Regions from separate parts of the Homo sapiens genome. Here regions 1, 2, 4, 5, 6 and 7 are each reported to be linked to region 3. Evidence: microRNA targets listed by miRTarBase, many of them from high-throughput screens and not tested one by one. Region 3 holds a microRNA gene; each other region holds the end of a gene's coding sequence. Distances are from middle to middle.
What was found. Region 3 holds the annotated microRNA hsa-miR-23c (AUCACAUUGCCAGUGAUUACCC, at 1,474-1,495, shown strand). A microRNA usually pairs through its seed, bases 2 to 8, with sites in the 3' UTR of a target mRNA and lowers its output. Matches are read on the target gene's strand: a 7mer-m8 pairs with bases 2 to 8, a 7mer-A1 pairs with bases 2 to 7 and ends in A, and an 8mer does both.

Region 1: miRTarBase lists ZNF669 as a target of hsa-miR-23c. Seed matches in the 3' UTR shown: 8mer at 192-199.
Region 2: the mRNA of SWAP70 is a reported target of hsa-miR-23c. Seed matches in the 3' UTR shown: 7mer-m8 at 1,952-1,958 and 7mer-A1 at 618-624.
Region 4: the mRNA of BSDC1 is a reported target of hsa-miR-23c. The part of its 3' UTR that is shown has no 7-base or 8-base seed match.
Region 5: miRTarBase lists UQCRFS1 as a target of hsa-miR-23c. Seed matches in the 3' UTR shown: 8mer at 2,304-2,311 and 8mer at 1,005-1,012.
Region 6: miRTarBase lists CRLS1 as a target of hsa-miR-23c. Seed matches in the 3' UTR shown: 8mer at 2,995-3,002.
Region 7: miRTarBase lists FOXR2 as a target of hsa-miR-23c. Seed matches in the 3' UTR shown: 7mer-A1 at 1,003-1,009 and 8mer at 1,531-1,538.

What each region holds. Positions count from the first base shown.
Region 1 is chr1:247,097,458-247,100,531 of GRCh38, reverse strand. ZNF669 (zinc finger protein 669) reads left to right here. Exons shown (of 4, transcript NM_001142572.2): 4 at 1-570. The coding sequence ends at 158. Among named protein-coding and RNA genes, the nearest start is that of ZNF669, 5.4 kb to the left of the region's middle.
Region 2 is chr11:9,749,713-9,752,795 of GRCh38, reverse strand. SWAP70 (switching B cell complex subunit SWAP70) reads right to left here. Exons shown (of 12, transcript NM_015055.4): 12 at 1-2,932. The coding sequence ends at 2,826. Among named protein-coding and RNA genes, the nearest start is that of SBF2-AS1, 7.0 kb to the left of the region's middle.
Region 3 is chrX:20,015,513-20,018,595 of GRCh38, reverse strand. It overlaps MIR23C (microRNA 23c), which reads left to right and starts at 1,409; the gene lies at 1,409-1,508. It overlaps MAP7D2 (MAP7 domain containing 2), which reads left to right. Exons shown (of 17, transcript NM_001168465.2): 11 at 2,271-2,502.
Region 4 is chr1:32,363,993-32,367,075 of GRCh38, reverse strand. It overlaps BSDC1 (BSD domain containing 1), which reads left to right. Exons shown (of 11, transcript NM_018045.8): 11 at 422-2,443. The coding sequence ends at 454. It overlaps TSSK3 (testis specific serine kinase 3), which reads right to left. Exons shown (of 2, transcript NM_052841.4): 2 at 2,764-3,083. The coding sequence ends at 2,820. Among named protein-coding and RNA genes, the nearest start is that of TSSK3, 3.0 kb to the right of the region's middle.
Region 5 is chr19:29,205,107-29,208,189 of GRCh38, forward strand. UQCRFS1 (ubiquinol-cytochrome c reductase, Rieske iron-sulfur polypeptide 1) reads right to left here. Exons shown (of 2, transcript NM_006003.3): 2 at 214-3,052. The coding sequence ends at 2,442. Among named protein-coding and RNA genes, the nearest start is that of UQCRFS1, 6.5 kb to the right of the region's middle.
Region 6 is chr20:6,036,768-6,039,850 of GRCh38, forward strand. It overlaps CRLS1 (cardiolipin synthase 1), which reads left to right. Exons shown (of 7, transcript NM_019095.6): 7 at 307-3,083. The coding sequence ends at 391. Among named protein-coding and RNA genes, the nearest start is that of LRRN4, 16 kb to the right of the region's middle.
Region 7 is chrX:55,624,053-55,627,135 of GRCh38, forward strand. It overlaps FOXR2 (forkhead box R2), which reads left to right. Exons shown (of 1, transcript NM_198451.4): 1 at 1-2,140. The coding sequence ends at 595. Among named protein-coding and RNA genes, the nearest start is that of FOXR2, 2.2 kb to the left of the region's middle.

The DNA of each region.
Region 1 (3,074 bases), not on the chromosome of region 3:
CTGGAGAAAAACCCTATGAATGTAAGAAATGCGGTAAAGCCTACACTCGTTCCAGTCACCTTACTCGCCATGAAAGAAGTCATGATATAGAGGCTGGGTGTAGTGACTCAGCCTATAATCCCAGCACTTTGGGAGGCCAAGGCGTGTGGATTGCTTGAGCCCAGGAGTTCATAACCAGCCTGGATTAAAACAATGTGAAACAACCTGGGCAACATGGTGAAACCCTGTCTTTACAAAAAATAAAATAATGCCGGGCACGGTGGCTTACGCCTGTAATCCCAGCACTTTGGGAGGCCGAGGCGGGTGGATCACGAGGTCAGGAGATCGAGACCATCCTGGCCAACACGGTGAAACCCCGTCTCTACTAAAAATACAAAAAATTAGCTGGGCGTGGTGGCAGACGCCTGTGGTCCCAGTTACTCGGGAGGCTGAGGCAGGAGAATGGCATGAACCCGGGAGGCGGAACTTGCAGTGAGCCGAGATCGCACCACTGCACTTCAGCCTGGGTGACAGAGTGAGACTCTGTCTCAAAAAATAAGATAAAATAAAATAAAAAAATAATTAGCTGGGCATGGTGGCACATTGCAGTTGTCTTAGTTGTTTTTCAAGGACATGAAAAGCCGTGCGCAGCAGGCGGGGAAGCCCTGTGCATGCAGATCACGAGGTCGGGAGATTGAGACCATCCTGGCCAACATGGTGAAACCTCGTCTCTACTAAAAACACAAAAATTAGCTGGGTGTGGTGGCATATGCTTGTAATCCCAGCTACTCAGGAGGCTGAGGCAGGAGAATCGTTTGAACCGGGGAGTTGGAGGTTGCAGTTAGCTGAGATGGCACCACTGCACTCCAGCCTGGTGACAGAGTGAGACTCCATCTCAAAAAAGCCCTATGCGGCTGGGCATGGTGGCTCACGCCTGTAATCCCAGCACTTTGGGAGGCCGAGGTGGGTGGATCACAAGGTCAAGAGATCGAGACCATCCTGGCCAACATGGTGAAACCCTGTCTCTACTAAAAATACAAAAATTAGCTGGGTGTGTTGGCGGGTGTCTGTAGTCCCAGCTACTCAGGAGGCTGAGGCAGGAGAATCACTTGAACCCAGGAGGCAGAGGTTGCAGTGAGCTGAAATTGTGCCACTGCACTCCAGCCTGGCAACAGAGTGAGACTCCGTCTCAAAAAAAAGGCCTTATGCGTGTAAGAAATGTGGTAAAGCATTTACTCTTTCCCATTCCCTCATAAACATGAAAGAGCTCACACTTCAGAAAACCTTAAGAATGTAGGAAATGTGGTCAAGCCTTCAGATTTTCCTATTTTGAAGATTTGGGAGGACTCAGAGTGGAGAAGAGCCTTTTAAATTTAAATTTGTGTTAAGGCCTTCAGTTGTTTTAGTTCCGTTTGAAGACATCAACTCATTCCTGAGAAAAACCCTATGAATGTCCAGAATGTGGGAATGTTTTCATTTCTCTCATATCTGCTCAAGGACATGTGAAAATGCACACTGCAGCTGGACCTTGTAAATACAAAAATGTACACAGGATTACAACTAATATTTAGAAACTGCAAGAATATTTTCAGTTTTAACATTTATTTGAAAAGTCGTGAAAACTCCCACTGGAAAGAAGTTCTATAAGTGAAGTTTTTCTAATTTGGAAAGCCTGATGCAAATTAATTATCGTGCGGTGCTTGAAAAAAATGTACATGTATGAAATGTTACACAAGTTGCAAGTATATTGTTTTCATCAGTGGCTCATTCTTAAAGAGTCTTGAGTATGCATTTCACTTTATTTTGCAGGAAAACCTTGAGGTGAGAGTTCTGTAAATGCTTTTTAAGCAGTACTTGAATTTCATAGTAATGATACTTTCTTCAGTTTGTTGGTAGAATTTTTGTCTGTTCATTTGATAATGTGCTGGATTCATGGTTGAATTTTGATGTTTTTCTAATATGTAGGTAAGTTTAATTTTTTTATTTTATTATTATTTTTTTGAGATGGAGTCTCACTCTGTTGCCCAGGCTGGAGTGCAGTGGTGCGGTCTTGGCTCACTGCAACCTCTGCCTCCTGGGTTTAAGCAATTCTCCTGCCTCAGCCTCCCGAGTAGCTGGGATTACAGGCGCCCACCACTATGTCCAGCTAATTTTTTGTATTTTTAGTAGAGACAGGGTTTCACCATGTTGGCTAGGCTGGTCTTGAACTCCTGACCTCATGATTTGCCCCCCCTCAGCCTCCCAAAGTGCTGGGATTACAGGCATGAGCCACTGTGCCCAGCGGAGTAAGTTTAATTTGTATGTATTGTTCTGTGATTAATGGACCAGTGAGTAATGATTGCTAATTGTTGCGATTTTCTTACTAGCCTCACTTGGCAAATTTTGGTTATCCCTTGTCCATTATACACATTCCACCTTTTTTTATTAAAGGAAAAACTACTCTTGGTGTAAAGATGTTTATTTTTTGCTAATAATGAGTTGGTATTAATTCCTAAGTACATAAAGTTTATCATAGAGTATCATCTCGTGAGTTCTTTGCATTTGTTGCCCTTTATTCTTTATTATTTCTGTCTGTTATTTGCATAGTTCACTTTGAATGAAGGAGAGAGAACTGTGATAGGACAATATGTTGTAACCAGTCTGAGGGAGGAAGCATTCAGTCTCACAGTCACATGTGATAGCGTTGGGTTTTTCATCAATGCCTTTGGTATTGTATATAGTATTACACCGTTACGGTATTATAGTTTGTGTATTTTACAGTATTACAGTCTTACCAGTCAGTGTCACATGATTCAGTTCCCTACCAGCCAACAGACAAACCAATCACATACTCCTGTAGGAACAAAGGAACATCCTCACTTTTTTAATGCTGTACCACTCTCTGCTCCCAAGTTAATCCCTGTTTGGGCCTGTGGGAGCTTACACCATCCTCCTGTATGTAATTAATAACTGATGTTTAGTTTATCTGTTTAGTAATAGATGTCATGTGTTTAACGGTACCAGTAGACATAGGGTGCTAATTCCTTCCTCACCAATGGGGTGCATGAGACGCTATTGAAACAATTGGCAACACAAATGGAATGGAGCAGCCCTCA
Region 2 (3,083 bases), not on the chromosome of region 3:
TATTTGGTTTCCCCTCAACATAGCACATCACAAAAATACATTTCAAAAACTTTTTTCATATATAATTCCTGTAAATGATCATATCCCTACTTATTAAGGAAAACACCTGATGACAAGCACTCAAACACTCTTGAAATTTTCTGTACAGTAATTACAAAAGTAAAACCAAGAGTTCTGTTGGCCCTTTAACAGGTGAAACCATTTTAAATAGTATCAAAATATAATTCCAAATGGGATATACTTAGTTCATTTCTGTGCTATCTTTGATTCACAAGTATCTATCTTAGCCAAAGCACTGTTTAAAAGGATATTGCCTCCTAGACATAGTGCCACTGAAAACCAAGATGTAAATCGGTAACACTATGCATTAAACAGAAAGCTTTTGCACAACCACATATGTAACCGCTTAGTCGTATCAAGGTCCACATGTGACCAGAAAGCAGGCAGTCCTTAGGTGGATGGCCAGGGGCCAGGCAGTGTGAGGTCTCCAAGAACCCAGGGCTAGAGCAGCTAAGCCCCAGGTCATGTTATCAGCTACAGCTGTGGAATAAGCCAGGTTTAAAGAAGGACATTCTGCAAAAGTGCAGGACCTATTTCACAACTTCTAGAAGTAGAAATTCACATATTCCATCATGATCCTCCCCACCATGCAGAGACTATTTGACTCCTAAGGCCACACTGTTTCCATCCCATAGATTTCACAGAGGTGATTAGGTTCTTTGTAGAATACTTTTTCCTCATTCTGGAATGAGGGATACTGGAGTCTTCTGGTGTAATGTGCAGTCAAACCACAGGAAAGGTTCCATTCCTTACCTAAGTCTCGTTGGTCTAATACACCTGCCAGCTACTGAATAAAATGATAATACTGATAAATGGCTGGGCAGAAATCCAACACCCAAATCAGCTGTCAAATTTCAAAGGCACATGATACAAAAATATTTTAGACAATACACTTTATAAAGGCAACTATAAGAAACCGTTAAAGTTACATTTTTATTAAACAGCCAAAAATCTTAAGACAAATACCTACAGACCATTTCTTCATTGGCAAATATTTTCCAGTCATAAAAGGTGATAATTTATGGGATTATATTCCAGTTTCCTCTCATGTAAATAAATACATACACTGAATCTCTAATACCACTCTCTCTAGATGTATACATCTATTTGGAATTGCTTTCTTAGTATGCACTCAGCAAGCACTAGCATAAGAACACCTGAGGTTCTCTGTCCTCATTTAATACCTGTAAGAGAAAAGGACTTTATTCTACTGAATTCTGCCCTTTTTTTGCAACAACTGAATTATCCCCATATTTATTTACAATTTTAAGCTTGATTGCTGTCCACGGAGTTACTGTTGCTTCTCAATTATAACTAGTGTTAGAAGGCTTGATTTCATAAATGTTCTTTTTAATCCAAAGATAGATCATATATGAAAACCTTCCTCAATACTCCTTTCAAATCAGATGCATATAAACTATGATCCCAATTTCCCTGTTAGACGTATTTCTGTTGGATATTTCCTCCGTTGTCACCACAGAGGAAGGGAAAAAGCAGAAAAGCTGCCCACCTAACAAAGGCTAACATAATGGCTAGGCTAATATATTGACATGCTATCATCTTTATGATGTTTTGAATCTAACTAGCAGACATACAGTCAACTTCCTGTTGACCATGTGCATCTAATCTGCTTTCTTAATTATACAAATAATTTTTATTTCAAATTAGCTTCTTTCTACTACTCAGTATAATCCTCTCACAGCCTGGCATATACTTGGTAGCACATCATTCACTAGAGAGAGTACGAGAGAAAATTAGGTTGACAATATGGGGCAAAGGGGTAGTCTCCTTTAAGGTGAGGGGAAAGGAGATGGGAATGAAACATGCCAAGTGTATGATGGTTAGGGAAAGAAATATCTTAGTAGAAGCTAGAAAACCTCTACTAACAGGATCACATTCCAAAAGGGCAACCAGGAAATGGCAATGACTCCATGACTTCTCTGTCAGAGCACCAATGGTCAAAGGCATTCCATGTCAAGTGTCAGGAAATGGAAAGCGAACCGGCCAATCTAGTTTAACAGCACATACTCGGAAAAGGAAACACGCTGCCAAAGGAAAGAGCTGACATCCAGTCCACAGAGGTTCTGAGTACCCAGTGGCAGTGAGCCCCTCCAAACTCTGCAGAGCTGACTGTGCTGTCTGCACCCTGCCTCATTTGGGGAAGAATCTGAGAGAGCTAAAAGACAAATTTCAGAAGGTGATGTTTTCAAAGAAAGAGTAAACAAACAGCTTGACAATGTTGACTTTTTTTTTCTTTTCAGGTAACCCTTGTTTGCAGGAAGATAAATAAGAAGGCTTCCTTAGGATACTGACCCACTTAGAGAGGCACAGAAGGAAGAAGAGTTAAAAGCAGCAAAGCCGGGTTTTTTTGTTTTGTTTTGTTTTGTTTTGTTTTGAGATGGAGTCTCACTCTGTTGCCCAAGCTGGAGTACAACGGCATGATCTCAGCTCGCTGCAACCTCCGCCTCCCACGTTCAAGTGATTCTCCTGCCTCAGCCTCCCAAGTAGCTGGGATTACAGGCGCCCGCCACCACGCTCAGCTAATTTTTTTTGTATTTTTAGTAGAGACAGGGTTTCACCAGGTTGGCCAGGCTGCTCTTGAACTCCTGACCTCAGGTGATCCACCCGCCTCGGCCTCCCAAAGTGCTGGGATTACAGGCGTGAGCCACCACGCCCGGCCCCCAAAGCTGTTTCTTTTGTCTTTAGCGTAAAGCTCTCCTGCCATGCAGTATCTACATAACTGACGTGACTGCCAGCAAGCTCAGTCACTCCGTGGTCTTTTTCTCTTTCCAGTTCTTCTCTCTCTCTTCAAGTTCTGCCTCAGTGAAAGCTGCAGGTCCCCAGTTAGTGATCAGGTGAGGGTTCTTTGAACCTAAGAGGCAAACATGCTTTAAATACAGGAAGTATTATATTCTTCAGGATACCCCATCATTTTTCTACAGACAAAATAGTAACTTCCCTACTTTATTTCTTCTTTGAGGAACATGCATAAATGTCATACCAGCTAAAACAATTAGAAGATG
Region 3 (3,083 bases):
CGGCGCATGCCTGTAGTCCCGGCTACTTGGGAGGCTGAGGCACAAGAATCACTTGAACCCAGGAGGCAGAGGTTGTAGTGAGCCAAGATCACACCACTGTACTCCAGCCTGGGCAACAGAGTGAGACTCCATCTCAAAAAAAAAAAAAAAAAAAAGGACAAGATTTCCCTGGAGGTGCTATGGAAAGGACAAGCGGGGTCTCATGGGCTTGTGGGGATTTATATTTTGGGTGATAATGAGGATTATGGAGGTTCAGGGGCCATAAGGATGTTCTTACATGTGTGCATCTGGGCACTTCTGAAGTCCTGATGGTAAAAAACAAGAAACAGAGGCCAAGTGCAGCGGCTCATGCCTATAATCCTAGCACTTTGGGAGGCCGAGGCAGGCAGATCACCTGAGGTCAGGAGTTTGAGACCAGCCTGACCAACATGGTGAAACCCCGTCTCTACTAAAAATACAAAATTAGCCAGACATGGTGGCGCATACCTGTAATCCCAGCTAGTTGGGAGGCTGAGGCAGGAGAATCACTTGCACCTGGGAGGCAGAGGTTGTGGTGAGCCAAGGTTGCACCATTGCACTCCAACCTGGGCAACAACAGTGAAACGCCATCAAAAAAAAAAAAAAAAAAAAGAGAATGGATTTTCAGGTCCTGGAGATGAAGACGGCAGGTCCTTTATGAAGTAGCTTATACATTAATTAATACACAATGTATCCTTTGTGTGTTAACTTCTCTGGGACAATCATAATTGGCTCGTTAATAAAGGGTAAGAAATGAAATGGTACTTCAGTTAACCTTTAGATACATCTTGTTATTAACACATCCATTTTGGATAATCCTGTGTTGGACATAGTATTTCATTGAGGAATCTAAGAAAATGGGAGCTTCTTTCTGATAGGTTCTATAATGCTCCTCTCCAGAATATCTGTTAATAATTTGAGTTGTTTCACAATGGTTTATAGGCATTGTGACCTAATTTAGTGTTATCACGTATTGTTACAGTCTCAGGCTAATATATTTAAGTATTTGTTTATCTTTCTTTTAAAATATTTCTTTGAATGAATAAACAAAATATTTCCTTTGGTCATACATAGGCTGTTAGCCTGCACAAGTTCTGAAGCTGACCATTAGGATGGATGGATGCTCTTTTTAAGTCTTGACCTTTTTATAACAACAGCATCCCAGTAAGTCATTGGCACATGCTTCCAAATGAAGGTAATTTCTAAAGGACATACAGATTTATAGGTGCACTTTAAAGGACATTGGGGCTTGGAGAGAGGATTCATTTTAAATTGTAAAACAAACTAACGTTTGAGAACCTTCTAGGGCCAGGCATTTTCATTCTCACAGTAAAGCCATAGAACAATAGTATAGCTTTTCCCATTTTTTAAATGGGCATCAAGAACATTGAGTGACTTTCCAGGTGTCACACAGTGAGTGGCATAATCAGAGTACAATTTGAGTCATGCCCATACATCACATTGCCAGTGATTACCCAAGGAAAGTGACGTACATGTGAGGAGGAGGAACATTAGAAAGGTTAAAACAAGCTCTTGGACTTTACAGGATTTTCCCTTACTGCTTCGAGCTCTTTACCATTACACCATGAACCATTCATCTGACTGTGGATGAAAATGTCTAAATGCCACTTAATTTTCATATAGCAAAGAAAGCTAAAATAGATTTCTAAAGATTGCCAAAATAAATGGAAATAGAGGTTTTAATTTATTAAATGTCAAGTTTCTGTTGAGCATTTTCTTCCATTTGCTGCTTCATAAGTCACATACCAATTAGAACCAAATTGGTATGACTTTTTGAGTTCGTAGTCACTGCTCTTAAATTGCTGACTGGCACATTTGTGGCCATTGAGACACTTCCCATTTTTCCTAGCTTTCATTGGTTTTAAATATTCTGCTTAGGTTTTAAAAGAATTGTCATTCAATAAGAATGATGGCTTGGCTTTCTGTCACCGTGGTCATTTGTTCATTGACTGAGGAGCATCTGTTTTCAATACAGTATGCGTTACACATCAACACATCATTCATTGCTGTATTACAGAATTTAAAGTCAAGCCTGGTTAATACTTTTTGGTAAATATATGGACCAGAGTGGATTTCCAGGAAGGATGAATCATGTTATTAAATGAATGCTCGTTGAAAGGTATGTGTGTGTGTTACCATGTGGAGCATTATTCTCGGCTGTCAGCACACAGTTCTCTGGCAGTTTGCTTTTCGAGCATGTCATCTTCTAACAACAGTTGTATTCTCAAAAGGCTGGAGAGAGAGGAATTGAAAAGAAAGGCAGAGGAGGAAAGGCTTCGCCTAGAAGAGGAAGCCCGAAAGCAGGAAGAAGAAAGGAAGCGGCAGGAAGAGGAAAAGAAAAAACAGGAAGGGGAAGAGAAAAGAAAGGCAGGCGAGGAGGCCAAGCGGAAGGCTGAGGAGGAGCTGTTGTTGAAAGAAAAGCAAGAACAAGAAAAACAAGAGAAAGCCATGATTGAAAAGCAGGTACTGTATGAGTCCTCAGATGGACTTTACTTGTTTTTTAAGGACCTTGATAGTAGGTACAATTAGTTAAATTTCAATGACTCATAATGTTTACTTGAAGTTTCTTCTTAAACTGTCTGGGCTGGTTATTAAATATAAGTTGGGGCAGTTGCAGTGAAGTTGGTAATGTTTGCCATCTGTGAGTTAGGGTTTCCCCAAAGGCAAACCCTGGGCTAAGAATTTGAGTGCCAGCAGTTTTTTTTGCAAGCGAATCCCAGGAAGCTGGTAGAGGAATAGGAGAAAAGCCAATGTAAGTGCATTGATGCATGTGTTACTGTGGGTGACTGGAACACAGTCCCATTGGGAACCTCTGACAGACTGTGGATCATGCTTTAGAATTGTCCAGCTGAGGGATGAGGAAACTGAACTACTTATCTACCACATCCTGCCCTTCACGGTAGTAGAAGGTCACTCCCTGGGGAATTAACTCTCTGATCTGGCCACATGCACACTTCATGGCCCAAGCCTGCCCACAGACACAGAAAAGCCTTGGCCATGTGTGAGAACTGTCTGCAGGTGATTTGCATGGTGAGCCAGGGGTA
Region 4 (3,083 bases), not on the chromosome of region 3:
TGCCCTTGATTACACTGGTCTTTTGTGTCCAGGGCCAAGTATCTGCTCAGGCCTCCTGAGTTCTCTGCTTCTCAGAGCCATGGCATTATCTGCTCAGCAGGAGGCAAGTTCTCCTTAAAGGACTGAGGCTGACTTGGTTCCTGTAGGCAGCCATCACCTTGTGGTGTCTGGTGTTGGTTGGGGGAAGTGTTTCCTTTAGGTCTGAGGTAATCAGAGCATCAGGCCCACCCCTCAGGCAGAGGGCAGCTCTGCCCCTCAGACACATTCCTTAAGACTAGGGGTTCACTCTCAGTGGGACCTCAGAGTATGGCCTGGGGTAGGGGATGGGAGGTGGCTCTGCTCAGCAAGTGGAGGTTAGGTCTGGGCCTGACTCAGGAGTAACTATGTGTTTGTGATTTCCATTACCCCCTCCCATTTGCAGCTGGAAGATGTAGAGTGGGAGGACTGGGAGTGAGGGAGCCAGAGGGAGCAGCTCCCCCACCCATGGCATCTCTCGCCTCCCTCGCTCGTCTCAGCCCAGCCCTGGAAGACTGAGAATGTTCCCCCAAATCTCCTCTGCCAACCAGAGCTCTGGGCACAGATTCTGGTGGCTCCCTGCTGGCCCTCTTGGGCCTCTGCTCACACCTGGGAAGGGGCTCTCTAAATCCCGGCCAGAAACTCTGACTTGTGCCAACAATAGGATGACCCAAGGGAGAGGAAACCTATCCTCCTCACCAGAAGAGCCTGTGTTTTTCTGCTGAACACCCACTGTTCCTGAGGACTCCTGCTGGGAAGTCCCAAGGGATAGTTCTAGCCCTTCTGCCTGTGTAGACAGAAGCTAAACCACCAGTCTCTCTCGGAGGAAGCTGAGACAACATACTCTGTCCATACATAAGCAGGCAGGGAGGGCCATGCCACCTACCCTTGGCTAAACAGGGACAGTGAACACATTTTGGTTCCTATCCCAGTGGGTAAGAGGCACTTATCTCTGGGAAATTTGCCTCTCTTGGGACTCTCCCCCTCCCAGGCATTTTCCATTCCTGGAAAGGCTCCTTTGGGGTTCAGAATCCAGAGACCAAACCCTGACCCACCTCCTTCCTTTCCTCCAGCCCACGCTGGTCTGTCCCCATGCCTTCCCAGGGCTTCTTCATGTCGGATGCACCCAAGTCCTTAGCCCAGCTGTGCCACCTGCAGGAGTTCGCTCTTGCGTTTCTTCCCCTCCCCAAGAAGGGAGGGGGCTACTTCAGGCCCTTCTGTGTGTTGCCTGGCAGGATACCTTGTCCAACCAGCTACCCACCTCAACTCCCCTGTAGTTTAGGACACAAAACAGCTACCAGCGGTACAGAGCGGTGATCAAAGCCGAGTACTTACAACTCTGGTAAGCCTAGCTTCTCCGCCTCAGCCCTTCTGCTTCTGGAAGGGCTATCCTGGGGGTGAACTTGAAACTCTCATCAGGCTTCTGCAAAAGCTCTTCTTCCTGAAGACAGACCCAGCCTTTGTGCTCTCACCCTCCACTCTGGTAAAGCTGCACCTCTGGGGGAATGAGGGGCTGCAGGAATCTCTGGAGAGCCTGGTGCTTCACGATGCTGCTCTGGTGATTCTTGTACCTAATCTGGTGTGCTCACCAATGAGTGAAAGGGATCGTGGGTCAGGGACACCGAGAGAGTGAGGTCACTTCCACTTCAAACCTTCAGTGAGGGGGTGGGATGGAGAGAATGCTGAATCTTTTTTTTGACGGGATGGGGTTTTTCTCTTTGTAATTATTTCTTTAGTTTAATTAACCTTTTGGTTGTTTGTGCAATATTATATATTTTAAATTATAATGCATCTCCCCAGAGTATTTTGTAGCTGGGAAAAGAAAAAAGGAAAAAAAGAAAAAAAGATTCTAACAGCTGTTAGTTTTATAATTAAAAAAGAAAGAAAAAAGAACTTTGTCCTGAACCTTTTACAGACTTGCCGTTAACAGCATTAAAGTGATTCACCCGAAGCTGAAAGGTGTCTGGGGGTCTGTTTTTGTCCCCTTGGCAGCTGCACTGGGCCAGGGCAGGACTGGCTTCCCACTTGGAGCCAGAGACAGGGTAGGGGGATAGCCTAGGTCCAGAGGACGTACCTTGTCCTCATCCCAGATTCAGCTTTGCCTTTGGGATGAGAAAGGGTCAGGGCTCGCAACAGGCCTCTCACTGGGACAAGGAGTCGGGAGGCCATCTCTGCACTCCCAGTGCCTCTGCTTTCCTTTGGAAAGGAAGTTGCAACAAGAATGGCTTCAGTTGCTCTTGGTCATTTTTATCCTCTCTTCCCCCTGTTTGTATATGATTCTTGGGTCTATTTTAATTAACTTTAGTATGAAAATCACTTGTCATGCCAGGCGCAGTGGCTCATGCCTGTAATCCCAACATTTTGGGAGGCCAAGGTGGGTGGATCACTAAGGTCAGGAGTTCCAGACCAGCCTGGCCAACATGGTGAAACCCCATCTCTACTAAAAATACAGAAATAGCCAGGCGTGGTGGGAGGTGCCTGTAATCCCAGCTACTGGGGAGGCTGAGGCAGGAGAATCGCTTGAACCTGGGAAGCAGAGTTGCAGTGAACTGGAATCGTGCCACTGCATTCCAGCCTGGGCGACAGAGCAAGACTCTTAAAAAAAAAAAAGGAAGTCTGAATGAGGCCCTTTGATTCCATGAAGATCTCTAAAAGGAAAGAGTAGTAGTAAGGCTGGGGTAGATGTAGGTAAGTTTTAGGATAAGTAAACTTAAAGCGTAAAATATATATCACCATTTTAGAAGCGGGTTTTTGGGTTTGCTTTCTCCCCCTACTTTATTGGAGAGCACTTGCCATTGCTTTTATCAAGTGCTTGCTAGCCATGGATGCCAACTAACTTCTTCAATTGAAGGCCGGAGGATCATATCGGGTTCCAGGAGCCTCTTGAGCAGGTCCTGGCAATCGGCCGAGATGCTCAGATGAGTGGGGAAGGACACCCCCTTCTGCTGCTGCCACAGCATCTTGGGGATGTCTGTGTCGTCAAAAGGTAGGCTGGCACAGAGCATGACATACAGGACCACACCCATGCTCCAGACATCACCTTTTTTGCTATCGTGGGGAATGCCCTG
Region 5 (3,083 bases), not on the chromosome of region 3:
CAGTTTGAGTTTAAGGTGTCAACAGGACATCCAAACATATATGCCCAGTAAGCACATGAATATGAAACTCAGGGAAGTGGTTGTGGGGAGTCACCAGCAAATAGGTGGTGATAAAGTGTGTTAGAACAGTGGGCTAAGGATAACAGTCCATAAAATATAAACATTATTTTGGGTTAATATACAAAATGCAATGAAATTCAAACGACATGAAAATACAGAAAATGAAATTTAGTACTGTGAGAATGAAGAATTACTTCTGATATTTAAATAGTATGTTCCTACAGTTTAGAAAAATGAGGGTACTAAAGCACATTTTGATCCAGTCAGGACAAATGCCCTCTATACACTCAGATTGAGTCAAAGTTTTTACAAAGGTATGCTCAGAAAGACCAAAGAAAATTTGATGTTATCTTTAACAAATAATGCAACATTTTCAAAAAGGCCATTTTTATAACACTTTTTAAAGCATAATGAAAACACTTGGCTCTCAAGATTGTCCCAAGAATTATCCCCAATAAAATGCAGTAGGTTAATGATCTGATGTCAGGGTGCTAGCTGGTCAGGTTTATTCTGTAAGTAATTTTCTCCTACTATCTAGGATTTTGTTTTCACAGAATGGTAAAAATGTTAACACAGGTCTGCCGTATCCATTCAGCAAAACAGCATGAAGTGACTTGACTTGTCCTGTCACTTGTGGAACAAAGCCTTCTTTAAAAACTAAATGGTCTACTACAATTTAACAGCATCCCACCATCAAACTCTAAATATGAAAGATGAAGTAAGCAGCCACCAAATATAGCAATTCCGGCACTAAGTGAGTACCTAGAGACCTGCAAACTTCCTACTTCTGTCCTCCACTGCCATGTAGAATTTCAAGGTATCACTTCAGGGTGGGAGGTGATATAGGTTATCAGTATTTCTCTATAGGGAGGGGGTGCTGTTGACATTTTTGGCAGCACAGGTTTTTTAGTGTGTGGACCTGTGTTCCCCTCACAACTCAATGTTTCACATTCCAACTCTGCCACCAACCCTTCCTCCAACCCCCAATCCGAAGAGTGCCTCCACTATCTAGAGACACAGAATATAAAATACTTCTGTGTCCCACCAATTATCACACATGCTAATTTCATTTCTAGAATGGTAAAAATGAAGCAAAGACTAGTATCTACTCATAAGCATAGAAAGTTTGACATTTTCTTTTTTCTGTCAACACCTAGCTATTAACATCAAAGGCTGGAATCCTGGATGGTCAGTTCCCTTTGGGCAGACCCAACCTAACCATTTTTGCCATTTTAAAAAAGTGTACATGAGATTATCAGGTAGACTCAGTAAAGCACGACTGGTCCACCTCTAAACAGCAAAGACAAACACATCAAAAAGTGACTGTGATTCTCAAAGGACAAAGCCCACTCCCAACTCCCAGGGGAAAATGGACCTTAGTCTTGTTTCACCTGTGTAATTGGAGGCAGAATAGGATGTGAATTCCGATGTGCTCTGCGTCTGGTTCCACACCATCTTACAGTGAAAAGTGCTGAGTGACTGTAAACCCAACAGGAAAAAACATTCAAAGTGTCATCACTACAGAAACAAACCCAGCAGGACCACTTCTGCATGCAGGCAGTATTAGGTCTCAGATGCTCCCTTTCTGCCTCCTGATAGAGTGGATGCAGGAACTTTGGGGACATGATGAACCACACACAAAATGAACGAAATGGCAGAGCACTCTCATTTTGGAAAGTTTCTCTCAGGTAATATCCCATCACTGCCTATTAAGACTAAAGGATTAAGTACTAATTTACACTCATAAGGGACTAATAAAATTTCCTGGCCTGTCACTTAAGGAGAAAAACCAGCAGACCAGACGTGAAGATAAACCCTCAGAGCTACTAATGCCTCATTCAGGACTCTTTCCCACAGATTAGTGTTGAGATTATCACACGGCTTACACAGTAGGGAGGAAATGCATAGCCAGGACTCTTACCAAGTCCGGTAAATAAGGAATACCTAGATACTACTGTTTCTGTCAATGCCATAGACACTTAGATGACCCGTTAATTTTACTTCATCCCAACAATGACCGTGCAGAATCTGCGTCCCTGACGCAAAGCAGGAAGCAAATATTTGGGCAAGAAAATAAAGTCAGTTACAGATTTCACAAGTATCTTGTACACCAGTCTGTAATTTTTAATTAGAATTAGCTAAAAGACATTGTACCTTTCGCGTGTATGACTGAGCATAACAGTGCTTAACAGTGTCTTTATTAAGTGAATGCCTGAAAGTATTCAACATTAAATTCAATTTATTTCACATTAATGTTTGCAAATACATCATCAATTCTTACATATTTCAAATCAACTTCAAGTACAGAAGGCTTCCTCTCAAATAAGTCTCCTGAGGTGACATAAAGACTGAAAGAAGCCTATGACTTGAGTCCAAGTCTCTTAACCAACAATCACCATATCGTCACTGGTGAACTCATACGTGGGGACTTCAAGGTTGAGAGGAGCAGGACCCAATCTGATCCTGCCAGATGCATCATAGTGTGACCCATGGCAAGGGCAGTAATAACCACCAAAATCTCCTGCATTTGCAATGGGTACACAGCCAAGATGAGTGCAAACACCTATCAGGATAACCCATTCAGGTTTCTTTACTCGATCTAGATCATGCTGTGGGTCCCTCAACTGTGATAATTCAACTGCAGCTTCCTGCTCAATTTCCTTCTGGGTTCTATGACGCACAAACAGGGGTTTGCCTCTCCATTTGAAAGCCATGTTCTTGCCTTCTGGAATATCGGATAACTTGATTTCGATTTTCGCCAGGGCCAACACATCAGCAGAAGCACTCATGCTGGAAACGAACTGGGTGACGGCATTCTTGGCAGCATATGCGACACCCACAGTAGTTACTCCAGTTACCAAATAGGAGAAACCTTTCCTAGCCTCGCTGCTTTCTCTTGAAGACTTCGTACTATCTAAAACTTCAAGGCGGCGGTATTCAGAGAAGTCAGGCACCTTGATGTCTGTGTGGGAATAACAAACAGAAGCAGGGACTGCAAGACAAACAGAAGGTTAAAAAACACA
Region 6 (3,083 bases), not on the chromosome of region 3:
AGAATAAAATGAGAATGTAAGACACCTAGAGGATGCCCGAGTAAAAAATGACAGTTGCTAGTAGTAGTAATTTGTAGGGCTCATTATCTAGAATAATTTTGTTTGACGTTACTAATTAAAATGAACTCTTAAAGAAAAGCAGTGTATTTAGACTCTTGTAGTTAAGAAAAATTACACCACAGAGCCCTTTTTACTTTTTAAATTCATTTTTACATTTTAAATTCATTGCATGTATTCATTATGATTCCCGTTGCTACTATTTTTTAGACTTGACAACTACATTTTATTTCTTTTCTTCCATAAAAGGTGTTTTACAGCTTTCACCACAGCTGCATCAGCTTATAGTTACTATCATTATGGCCGGAAGACTGTTCAGGTGATAAAAGACTGATGAAAGTCATCCCTCACTGTTAGTAAGGAAGCAGTATACATCAATGGGAACAGGGCCCATGGAAATGTACAGGAGTTTCCCTATTTTGGTGTTCAGCTTGAAAAAGGACTTGTCAGAATCAACTGTGTCATCAAAATTTAAGTAATGTGCATTGAAAATAAGGTTGATCATGGGAATATGCAGAATTTCCAATGTATTTTTAAATACAAATAAAATTGTAATTTAGAATTTTTAATCTTAGGTTTCTTGATTAATTTATAAGAGATCAATTATTGTCAGTCTTTTTTGTATGTTTTTTAAAAACATAGTCCAGAGCATGGGCAGAATTGACACCTCTCTTTTAAGTGAAATTTGGATTGCTCACAAAGCACTAGGAAATGTCATGGGGTTCAAATATATATCCTACACAACTGGGCAATACATTTTTGTTTGATTTTTAGGTCTGTGTATACATTAACAGTTCATGTAATTAATACCTGATCATTTGGGATAATGAAAGTGAAGTTAGTTGTAGATGAAGTAAAGTTATAAAAGAGATTAAAAATGCGGTAACTTTTTAAGATAATAATCATACAGAAGGTATGAAGTTCATTTTCGGTAGTCTTCCAACCTCTCAGGTGCCTAATAATTTATGTTTGAGGATAACAGGTAACAAAGATAGTCGAGATAGGAGAACGTGTCTATTAGTCTTTGCATCTAAAAGGCAGTGAGTTACGTTCCTGCCTTCCACTGTGTTTCTGACATAGCAATGTTTGTTTGATATTGGAACCTGGATTCATATTTTATGTAAATAATATCAAGCTGTATATTTTTCAAAGGTTTTTTAAACTTTGGAGACTCTTTCTTTTGTTAAGCAGTTAAAGGAATAAAAGAGCTGGAAAAAAAATTGTACCTTCAACTCAGGTTGTTCCATATAACATACGTATTCTCTGCTGTTACGTAAGTTTTCCGATTCACAGAGTCCATTCATGTACATCACTTACACTTAAATTGTAAAAATAATTAGTCTGACCATCTGACTTTAAAAGACTGTTGCTACACGTACATCATGTTTAGGAGAATGTGGGATATGGGGAAGGGGAGAAGAAGACAGTCCAGTGGTGACTAGTTGCTGCTGCTTAACCTATGGCCTATTGCTGCCCATTGTCCCTGGTTTTAATCCAAGCCTATTATGGAATACTGCAGTGAGATTATCCATTCTCAGCCTGTTGAGCTGCATTAAATTAGAATGGGAGGCTGTAAGTAAAACTCATGCCTCTTGGCCAGGCATTCTGCACCAGCGTGTCCCTCTGTGGCTTGCTGGTCCTGGTTGTTCTCAGACTGGCAGCTGAGCTGCGCTTGGCTTGAAGCATACTGAAGCCTGCAGCCAGGGACACCGCCATTGAATCAGATGGAGGGGGATGAAAAAGCAGAGAAGGGGGCATGTGGCTGGCTATTCTTGCTCTCTGGAGAACAGCTTCATTGTTAGGAGTAGTTAGGCTGAAAGTGGACTTCCCACTGCTGAGCCACCCAAGAGGCACACTGAGCATTAGTGACGGGTGAGCCACATAAGAATAATGTTTAAAAAAGAGAGGACTTGAAGTAGCTATGCGAAAATTTAGAACTTTGCACTTTGTTAACGCTTATTTATGGTTTAGTGTTGATGCCATTTGGAGTGACCTATGGGTTGGACCCATATCTTTTTATTATTAAGGTCTCAATCTGGCTCTGGTTAATAAACGTTTCCCGCTTCATCCCTTAGGAAAATGGTCCAAGTCTCCTCAGGCTTTTGGATACTGAATTGTTATAAAACACATCAATTCTGCCAGTTTATAAAACACTGGAATTGTATTAGACATGTCTGAGTATGTACTTGTTTATAGACTCAAAACATGATGAAAATTCATTTCATTGTCTTCACTGAATAGACTTAACCTTGACAGTAAGCTTAAAGCATTAGTGTCATTTAATTACATGTCTGAGGAATTTATGCTAACTAGATTTTGGGCTTTTGCAGCGAATTTTAGTCGGGGCCTCATTCCTGAGCCCAAGTGACCCTTTCACCTCAGCTTCCCAAGTAGCTGGGATTACAGGTGCACACCAACTGTGCTTTGCAGTTTTGTTTGTGTGTGTGTGTGTGTGTGTGTGTGTGTGTGTGTGTGTGTGTATTTTGTTTTTTTTACAAGCCCACAACATCATAGCTTTGCAGTTTTTAACCAGGAGCTGGTGGAGATCTTTGAAATCATTTAGGCCAATTCTTTTAGTTACATTTATGATGAAACTAGGGATCTACCTTAAAGTTTTGGGAAGCTCTTTCAAAACTTCAGACACCTAGAAATATATATAGTGCAGTTCAGTTTTAGTTTCTGCAGCATGGTTTGGAAACAAAAGATACATAGGATTTAAACTCGATTTGTTTTCTTCTTACAGTAGAAGTAAATGCTCTTGTGGCTTGAATCGCATCTCCCAAGAAAGATACGTTCACGTTCAAACCCCCAGTACTGTACATGTGACCTTATTTGGAAATAGGGTCTTTTTAGATGCAGTCAAGATAGAATTAGATCATACTGGATTACAGTGGGCCCCAATAACTAGGTTTTTTTGTTAAAAAAAAAAAAAAAGGAAATGTGAACAGAGAGAGAATGCCGTGAGATGATGGAGGGATAGATTGGAATGATGTCTGCGAGCTAAGGAATACTGAGGATTGCTGCCA
Region 7 (3,083 bases), 36 Mb from region 3:
ACAAAAAGACGAAGGGTCTAACTGCTCAGAGGACAAAGTGGTAGAGTCTCTGCCATCTTCCTCCAGTGAGCAGTCTCCTTTACAGAAGCAGGGTATCCATTCCCCCAGTGACTTTGAGCTCACAGAAGAGGAGGCTGAGGAACCAGACGACAACTCCCTCCAGTCCCCTGAAATGAAATGTTACCAGAGCCAGAAACTATGGCAAATCAACAACCAAGAGAAGTCCTGGCAAAGGCCCCCTCTCAATTGTAGCCACCTTATTGCCCTAGCATTAAGAAACAACCCCCACTGTGGCCTCAGTGTGCAGGAGATCTACAATTTCACCCGACAGCATTTCCCCTTTTTCTGGACAGCTCCGGATGGCTGGAAGAGCACCATTCATTACAACCTCTGCTTCCTGGACAGCTTTGAGAAGGTGCCAGACAGCCTTAAGGATGAAGATAATGCAAGACCTCGCTCTTGCCTTTGGAAGCTCACTAAGGAGGGGCACCGCCGCTTTTGGGAGGAGACTCGTGTCTTAGCCTTTGCTCAAAGGGAGAGAATCCAAGAGTGCATGAGTCAGCCAGAGTTGTTGACCTCTCTCTTTGATCTTTGAAATGCCATTGCTCCCTTTTGGAACACTGCCTTCCTTACTGTGCCTACTTATCCCCTGACATTCATTAATCTCTAAACTTACCCAGCCTGGTTGGTGCCAAGTCTGTCTTTAGCTACTGTTACAATAATGGTGTTAAGTAAAGTTAGAGGTGGGTACAGGGGAGACAGAACTTAAATCCAGGTGGAGAGTCATGGAAAGTCGCACGAGGAGAGTGGCTGTTGTTCCAAATTTTGAGCAAAGGAAAAGAAATCCTAGAAACAATGGCATAGAAACTAAGGAAAGAAGGGTGTGTTTTGTGAAAGAAAGGAATTTTGTTTATAGAGAGTATTTTCACACATGAAAGTGAACAGTGGAATATAAAGCATAAAAGGCAGGATGGAGCCGAGCCATGGAGAACCTCGAGTGCCATGTGAAGAGAATTTGACTTGTGATGAAGAATCAAGTTTCCCCTTCTACCATTCATCAGCTACATCTCCTTTTTAAGTAACCCATTTTATCCTTCAGAACCTCACTTTTCTATTTCTGGCCCTGGACTTCTAAGCCTTGTTTCTTTGTCATCCAATTCCAATATTGACAAATAATTCTAAACAGCTACTTTTAGTTTGTATGTTTAACGTCCTGTGAAATATTCCTGTATTAACCCCAAGCCTTTTGATGATAAAGCTTTATTTTCTATTATTTTTAGTTCTCAAGATTTTATTGAGGATATGCTAATGTGTCAAGGTCCATCTTAGATGCTGAGGATAAAAAGCTGAGGGATACTAGTGGGAGACATATTTATAATGTAAATATGATGAAACAGATGTGAGAAATTGACATGGAAATGGGGAGACATTCTTCCTGGGAAAGACATGAAAGGGCATTGGAAAAAATACATTTTGAGCTAGTTTTGAAGAATAAATGGCAAACTGGAGTAGAGGCATTACAGAGACAACAATGTGAACAAAGTGGATGGAGTGTTTGGGGGAATGGCATGAAGTTCAGTGTGACTTAACTACATGAGGACCGTGAGTGACTAAGAGAAAACTATTAGGTGTTTGGACTTCATCTTGTGGGTTTTTAGGAGCCAAGAGACATCAGTGGAGTTTTGCTAAAAAACAAAAAAAGAAACAAGCCAGCAGCAACAACAAACACTACAGCATTTGTTTTTCTAATTTCAAAATTATCTTTAACATCTTTTCTATGCAAATAAACTTTTGTTTATCAGATTTAAGCATAGCTTTTTGCTTCAATGATATTAACATATATCCAGGAGAAAATAGATTTTTAGGTATAAATTTAGTTGCAAAACCTTCATAATGGGGGTACAAAAACGCCTGTAAGCTACAAAAGCAATTAATTCAATATAATTGTAACTATTTTCAAAGTTCACATTTTTATAATGATGTATTATACCTCATACAAAATTGTATATTTAGGTTAAATCACAAAACAACATATGCAAACAGTATTTTTTGAAAAAAATTGTAAATGCTACTTCTGTATCATAAGGCAAAGACCAAGTTAACAGAATACCTTGGAATTAATAAAATATTCTGCATATAAGTAGTCACCAGTTGCTTCTCATTTTTCTCCCAGATTAACACTTACTAGTAAAAGAGCTGGATGTGAAATTAATGAGACTATTTTTATCACAAACTACACTTCTAATATGCCTAGTCTGTAAACTTCTCAAACAAGGCAAGCTTTCATTTTTAGAACTAGACCTGGAGTTTTCTGCTGCAACCTGGTACCTCTGAGCTTTGAACTCTATTCAGTATTTTCTGATCCTTATTTCTGCTCTCTGGTTGCATGAAAAAAAGCAGTGGCTGGATATGGTGCTTCTTCAGTAATGTCATGATCCAGATATACCTTCAGAGGAACTTTTTAAAAAAATTATAAATTGCTGTAATCGAGTGCAAAATAAAGGAAACTTGAGTTGCTTCATTCAGCTTCCAATTTCTAGGAGGCTTAAGAATCATAAGAATTCTGGATAACAAAAGAAAATAAGACTGTGCTTATAGAGCTTGTTCTGCCGTATTTTTTCTTAATGATTGCTACTTTATTGTTGCTTTTCCTGTTACATGTGATGTATGCATCAGGTGTTAAAAGGTACAATACTTTCTACAACTGAGCACCTTTTTCTGTAAATGAACAAGCAAAGAAATTACACTGAACATCTGCATCTGGCAGTATGTTTTGGAAAAATGACTAAAAATGGGTTTAAATTTAACACTATTAAATCACATCTAATATTTGATACTACACGATTCAATACAGCTATAAAATACAATTATACAAAATATGTTAACATCAAAGAATACAACTAAAATTAAGATAGCAAACACAACCTATATAACTTCTTTTTATAGGAAAATATTTTTGAAGTATGCATGTAGCTGCCCATTCTTTTAAAGAAAATGTACTGCAAGCAAACTTATCAAACTCCAGAAAAATCACACATAGCATTACTAAGCATATCCCCCAAAGTGTACAATATGCACATTTG